2 linked regions of the Homo sapiens genome follow. The protein of the gene in region 1 purifies or fractionates together with the protein of each later gene. This does not show direct contact. Each region holds a gene or a part of one and is shown on either strand. Other genes may lie near its edges.

What was found. Proteins that work in one complex are often made in the same cells at the same time.
Region 2: the proteins of GGNBP2 (region 1) and FBXO45 purify together in Homo sapiens (affinity purification with western blotting, with the first as the bait; one study listed by BioGRID). This does not show direct contact.

The regions. Positions count from the first base shown.
Region 1 is NC_000017.11:36,558,419-36,561,918, reverse strand, and holds part of GGNBP2 (gametogenetin-binding protein 2), read right to left. Parts: intron 1,147-3,500; coding exon 1,048-1,146; intron 1-1,047. UniProt on the Homo sapiens protein: May be involved in spermatogenesis.
Region 2 is NC_000003.12:196,575,160-196,578,659, reverse strand, and holds part of FBXO45 (F-box/SPRY domain-containing protein 1), read right to left. Parts: intron 1,208-3,500; coding exon 851-1,207; intron 1-850. UniProt on the Homo sapiens protein: Component of E3 ubiquitin ligase complex consisting of FBXO45, MYCBP2 and SKP1. Functions in substrate recognition but also plays an important role in assembly of the complex.

The sequences.
Region 1 (3,500 bases):
GGGCGCGGTGGCTCACGCCTGTAATCTCAGCACTTTGGGAGGCCGAGGTGGGCGGATCATGAGGTCAGGAGATCGAGACCATCCTGGCTAACACGGTGAAACCCTGTCTCTACCAAAAATACAAAAAATTAGCCGGGCTTGGTGGCACGCACCTGTAGTCCCAACTACTCGGGAGGCTGGGGCAGGAGAACAGCTTGAACCCAGGAGGCAGAGGTTGCAGTGAGCCGAGATGACGCCACTGCACTCCAGCCTGGGCGACAGAGGAGACTCCATCTCAAAAAATAATAATAAATATAGAAAACTACAAATTAGTTACATAAATACATATTGTCATAATATCGTCATAACTACTTTTTTTAAAACCTTGGTAAATTACAGCTAGAGACAAGAAAGATAAATAATTTATACATTATGACTATTCTGTAGATCAAATAATGATTACCACTACTTTGAAAACGTTCATATTAGCTGCATACATTTCCATAAAGACTTCAACCGGCCGAGTGTGGTGCCTCACACCTGTAATCCCAGCACTTTGGAGGCTGAGGTGGGCGATCACCTGAGGTCAGGAGTCCGAGACCAGCCTGGCCAATAGGGTGAAACCCCATATCTACTAAAAATACAAAAATTAGCCAGGTGTGGTGGCACGCACCTGTAGTCCCAGCTACTCAGGAAGCTGAGGCAGGAGAATCATTTGAACCAGGGAGGTGGAGGTTGCAGTGAGCTGAGATTGTGCCACTGCACTCCAGCCTGGGAAATAAAGGGAGACTCCGTCTCAAAAAAAGAAAAAAAAAAAGACTTCAACCTCCCTCCTCTAAAACATATTTAACATAAAAAAATTTTTTTAAATCAGATCTACATTGAGACTTTATATATATCAAGGCAAAATGGCCAACATAACAAGAGGATCTATTTATTTTGACCTATGTCATAGAGTATAACCAATTAATGAATTAAAGCAAACAGTGGGTTTATTTCTTTTACTAAATATGATCAAATATATAATCTTAACAATGACAAAGCCTCTTGGTATTCAATTCTACTTACCCCAAAGGTTTTGGCTTGTGCGTATCTAAGGAGTGCAACTGACATCTCTTATTCTTCTTACTTTTTGGAATAGCATCTATCATGTCATTTAGTTTGGACCTAATTAAAAATAAAACATATTAAGGGTTTAATTCATTTTACTTTCAAATTTTAAAATCTCTATTTACTGTCTTTTAGAGAGAAGTCTCAAAACAAAACACAAAAAAACCACTTTTCTCTATCCCCACTGTATCTAGCAGTGTGCCTGGCACTCACGTTATTTCAACACTGACTGCTACCTGACTCTCAGCCATCTTCCCTTGCCCAGCCATTATGTAAATACACCAGTTGCAGAAGCACACACCTGTAGTCCCGGCTATTTGGGAGGCCGAGGTGAAAGGATCACTTAAGCCCAAGGGTTTGAGACCAGCCAGGGCAACATAGTGAGATCCCATGTCTTTAAAAAATATATAAAAACCTCACAAAACATTATGTAAACACAATACATCCTTGAAGAGGAGTCATCAACAGAACTTTTATGCAAATATGGAATACACACTACTACTATCCGCACCTTCCATCCAACCAATGAGCAAAGTTTGCCAATTCTACCTTTTAAATATTATCTAGAATCAGGCCTGGTGCAGTAGCTCATGCCTATAATCCCAGCACTTTGGAAGGCTGAGGTAAGAGGATCACTTGAGGCCAGGAGTTCAAAGCCAGCCTGGGTAACATAGCAAAATTTTCATCTCTACAGAAAATTTTAAAATGAGGCCAGGCATGGTGGCTCACACCTGTAATCCCAGCACTTTGGGAGACTGAGGCCAGGAGTTAAGAGACCAGCCTGGCCAACATGGAGAAACTCTATTTCTGCTAAAAAAAATACAAAAATTAGACAGGTGTGGTGGTGCACGCCTGTAATCCCAGCTTCTCAGGAGGCTGAGGCACGAGAATCACTTGAATCTGGGAGGCGGAGGTAGCAATGAGCCAAGATTGCACCACTGCACTCCAGCTTGAGACAGAGTGAGACTTTGTCTCAAAAAAATTAATAAATAAGATAGAATAAAAGCTAAATAAAAATTAACCAATCTAGAATCAGATCACTTCTTATCACCTCTACCATTATCATCCCTGTCCAACCCACCAATCTCTAGCTTAGTCAACTGCAATAGCTGGCCTCCTAAATGGTCTCCTTGCTGCACCTTCTGCCCTTTACATTCCAGGCCTCACTCAGCAGCTACAGTGATCCTTTTAAAATATGAATCAGATTACATTATTCCTCTGTTCAAAAACACTCCAAGGCTTATTTTCTCAAGCCCAGGCACAGTAAATATCAAAAGTCCCTACCACCATCTCTAAATAGGAAAGCCTCGGGTTTACTTTTCAGACCTCTTCTTCTTTTCCTATTTATATTCACTAAATGAGACAAATTTACATCTCTAACCCAGACCTCTCTGAATTCTATTTGGATGTCTAATCGCTATCTCAAACTTAGCACACCCAAAGATGAGCTCTGTTACATTTCTCCTCAGTCTCGTCCCTCTCGGTAAATGGTAACCATTTGCCCATTCTTTTTTTTTTTTTTTTTTTTTTTTTGAGACAGAGTCTCGCTCTGTTGCCCACGCTGGACTGCAGTGGCGCAATCTTGCCTCACTGCAACCTCCGCCTCCCGGGTTCAAGCGATTCCCGTCTCAGCCTCCTGAGTAGCTGGGATTACAGGTGCCTGCCACCACGCCCGGCTAATTTTTTATTTTTAGTAGAAATGGGGTTTCACCATGTTGGCCAAGCTGGTTTCAGACTCCTGACCTCTGGTGATCCACCCTCACCGACCTCCCAAAGTGCTGGGATTATAGGTGTGAGCAACCACGCAAGGCCTGTTGTCCATTCTTTACATCACAAATCTGAGAATCATCTTTGATGGCCTCCCTCACAACCAATCTATCCAAAAAATCCCACTGGCTCATTCCTCAAAATATATCCAGGATCCTTTATAACCATTTTTCACTACCTCCAAAGCCGTCATTCATTCTCAATACAGAGGTCAAAGTAAGCCAGATTTCATCAGACTATGCCACTCTTCTGCTCAAAACCTTCCCAAAGCTTGTCACCTCACTCAGAGTAAAAAAAAAAAGACCTCAGCCAGGCACGGTGGCTCACGCCTGTAATCCGAGCACTTTGGGAGTCCAAGGCGGGCAGATCGCCTGAGGTCAGGAGTTCAAGACCAACATGGCCAACATAGCGAAACCCTGTCTCTACTAAAAAATAAAAAAAAAGTCAAGCGTGGTAGTGGGCACCTGTAATCCCAGCTACTTGGGAGGCTGAGGCAGGAGAATCGCTTGAACCCGGGAGGCAGTGGTTGCAGTGAGCTGAGATCGAGCCATTGCACTCCAGCCTGGGCAACAATAGTGAAACTCTGTCTGAAAAAATAAAAATATGACTGGACCTTTTATTACCTTTTTTTTTTTTTTTTTTTT
Region 2 (3,500 bases), on another chromosome or scaffold:
CAAATCTGTCCTGCAGCCCATAAATAAGGTCTATGGAATACAGCCATGTTCGTTCATTTACGTATTATCGATGACTGCTTTTGTACTATAAATAGAGTTGAAACTCGTGATAGATCCTTACCTTGAAAATGACATTAAAAAAAAAAAGTTGTGACAGAGACCATATGGACTGCAAAGACTTAAAGATTTACTACGTGGCCCTTACAAAAAGTTTGCCAACCCCTGATCTGGAGCAAAAATAGGCTGCTTAAAGTTGTATTAGGAAACAAATATTGAGATAGATCATTTATACATTTATTTAAAAATGGTCAAAAAATCTCCTTGAGGCTGGGCATGGTGGCTCACGCCTGTAATCCCAGCACTTTGGGAGGCCAAGGCAGGTGAATCACGAGGTTAGGAGTTCAAGACCAGCCTGGCCAAGATGGTGAAACCCTGTCTCTACTAAAAATACAAAAATTAGCCAGGCATGGTGGTGGGCGCCTGTAATCCCAACTACTGAGGCTGAGGCAGAGAATTGCTTGAACCTGGGAGGTGCAGGTTGCAGTGAGCCGAGTTGGCGCCACTGCACTCTAGCCTGGGCAACGGAGTGAGATTCTGTCTAAAAAAAAAAAAAGAATATTTTTCTGCATAGCCAAAATCAAAATATAACACCCAACAAAATTAACTATAACCCCCTAACATTAAAAAAAAAAAATCTCCTTGAAGTCTGGGTATCTGAAAAAATAAAAAAATAATAAAAATAAAAATTACCAAAAAGACAAAAACTGCTATATAAAAATTTGTAAATTTAAAACAAATTAAGGCGTGATTTGACAAAGGCCCATACTTGAGAAAAACCCCAGTTTCTCACCTGATATTTTGGTGCGTTGTTGCACTGTGGAAAACTGCCATTGACTTCTCCATTATGTAGTAGATTATTGTCCACCAGATTCCAGCCCCAGCTCTGGTCATCACTGCCCAGCAATGCCACATAACCTTGGCACTGCATGGGGGCCCGTTTTGTGGCAATTCCAATCACTGCCACAGTGCCCAGAGGGCCCTCCCACCACACTTCCCATGCATGGCGGCCCTCACTGAAACCAATCTTGGTCCTTGCACCATCAGTGCTCTGAGCAATGGGGTTTCGATGTAAAGTAAAGCCATTCTTCTTAATGTAGACATTCCTGGAGCAGTCATTAGTGCTGAAGGCATGTTGAAAAGCACGTATCTAAAAAGATGAAAAACAGACCAAATAAATAACAATTTTATTTTTCTTAAATATTAAAAATTACCCAAACTTCACGCTGTATGTTTTTAAATAACGAAGTTATATATTTTAAAATAACACAAGTATTTCCAAATAATGGCTGAAGTTTCAGGATGGAATACTAACAGAATAAATAACATTAAAAAATAAATGCCAACCGTTTCATCACTGACCAAAATTTTAAATTGTAGTATTTCCTCAAACAGACTTCTTAAAACATCAAAAGATACAAAAAAGAAAAATCCTTATATCTTACAGATAATACTGAAACGTTTATGGATAAAATAATGGTATCTGGGAATTGCTTTGAAATATCCAGAGATGGAGTGGGAGAGTGTGCAATAGAAACATGAAACTAGACTGGCCATAAATTAATCATTGGCAAAGCTTGGTGATGGGTATAAGGAAGTTCATCAAACTATTTTCTCTACTTTTGTTTATATTTGATATTTTTATACCAAAAAGTTGAGATGTACAGTTTTCATATGGGCAATGCTGTCATCAAAAAGAATTATATTTTACATAAAACAGAAACTTTAATCCTAGCAGCTCTAAAGTTTATGAAAAATTTTAGTAAACACAAACTACCTTAGATCCTCAGCCTACTTGCTGGATATGACTTACACAATAAAAAAATCACCAATCTCATTTTACCAAATCAAATAATCCCTTAGATAGCATCTAGGTTCAACTACTAGAATTTATGAAGAGAAGCTATCAATAAGACAAGTTAGTTGACTCTTCAGTAAATACAAAGGTTTACACTTCCAAAATAAAGAGGGTATGAAAATAGCTCTTCTATACAAACAATAACAATTTCTCATAAACAATTTTAAACTTTTAGTTTGTGTATTTTAAATTTTTTTTAGACAACGTCTCACTCTGTCACCCAGACTGCAGTGCAGTGGCACAATCGTAGCGCACTGCAGCCTTGAACTCCTTGGCTCAAGTGATACTCCCATCTCAGTCTTCCGAGTAGCTGGGGTTACAGGTTCGAGTCACTACGCCTGCCTGGCTAGTATGTTTTTAAAAAATCCCTTCTCTACTTTAGTCAAACTACCCAAAGCAGTGGAAGGCTGGGACCTATGCTTCAGCTAACCTGAGAAAAATCAACTCCAGAGGCATAGAATGTCAGCATTTAGGAAGACCCTTAAAGGTCACCTAGTCCTTCTCAGGGATTTCAACCGCGAGTTAGTGCAAGAGGCCCAAAGAGAGATCAAGGATCCAGTCCCCTCACCACCTGTTCGTTTACCATTCGCTGGCACTCTACCGTTTCAGTGAGCTGCAGAGCGCAGATTTAAAAACAGAGAACTATTTGTTTCCAGTATCCCATGCATTCACAATAAAACTGAGGCATTCCCAATGTTTTTCCTATCTGCTCGTATTATAAAATACTTTAAGGCACTTATAAGACCAAAACGTAAGATTCAATGAAGGGGCCGGGCGCGGTGGCTCACCCCTGCAATCCCAGCACTTTGGGAAGGCAAGGTGGGCAAATCGCCTGAACTCGGAGTTCAAGACTAGCCTGGGCAACATGGCGAAACCCCAACTCTAGTAAAAATACAAAAAATTAGCTGGGCGTGGCAGTGCACGCTTGTAATCCCAGCTACTTGGGAGGCTGAGGCAGAAGGAATGCTTGAGCCCAGGAGGCAGAGGATGCAGTGAGCCAAAATCACACCACTGCACTCCAGCCTGGGTGACAAAGTGAGACCCTGTCTCAAAAAAAAAAAAAGAAACAAAGAAAAGAAAGGAAAAGAAGATTAAATGGGGAAGGAACATGTCCCCAAAATAGCAAATACTGTCTAAATAACTCAAGAGAATAATATCAATAATTCACTATAAAATATTTAATTAATATTTCCCTATGCCTACTCCCCAATTCTTATAAATTCCAATTTCACATTGACACTATTGACAACCTCTTCCTTAAACTTCCTTTTCTTTTTTTTTTTTTTTGAGACAGAGTCTCACTCTGTCACCCAAGCTGGAGTGCAGTGGCTCAATCTCAGCTCACTGCAACCTCTGCCTCCTGGGTTCAAGCGATTCTCCTGTCTCAGCCTCCCCCGAGTAGCTGGGATTACAGACGTGCACCACCACACCCGGCTAATTTTTGAATTTTGAATAGAGACAGGGTTTCACCATGTTGGCCAGGCTGGTCTCAAACTCCTGACCTCAGGTGATCCGCCTGCCTTGGCCTCCGCAAGTGCTGGGATTACAGGCGTGAGCCACCACGCCCGGCCCTCTCTTCCTCAAA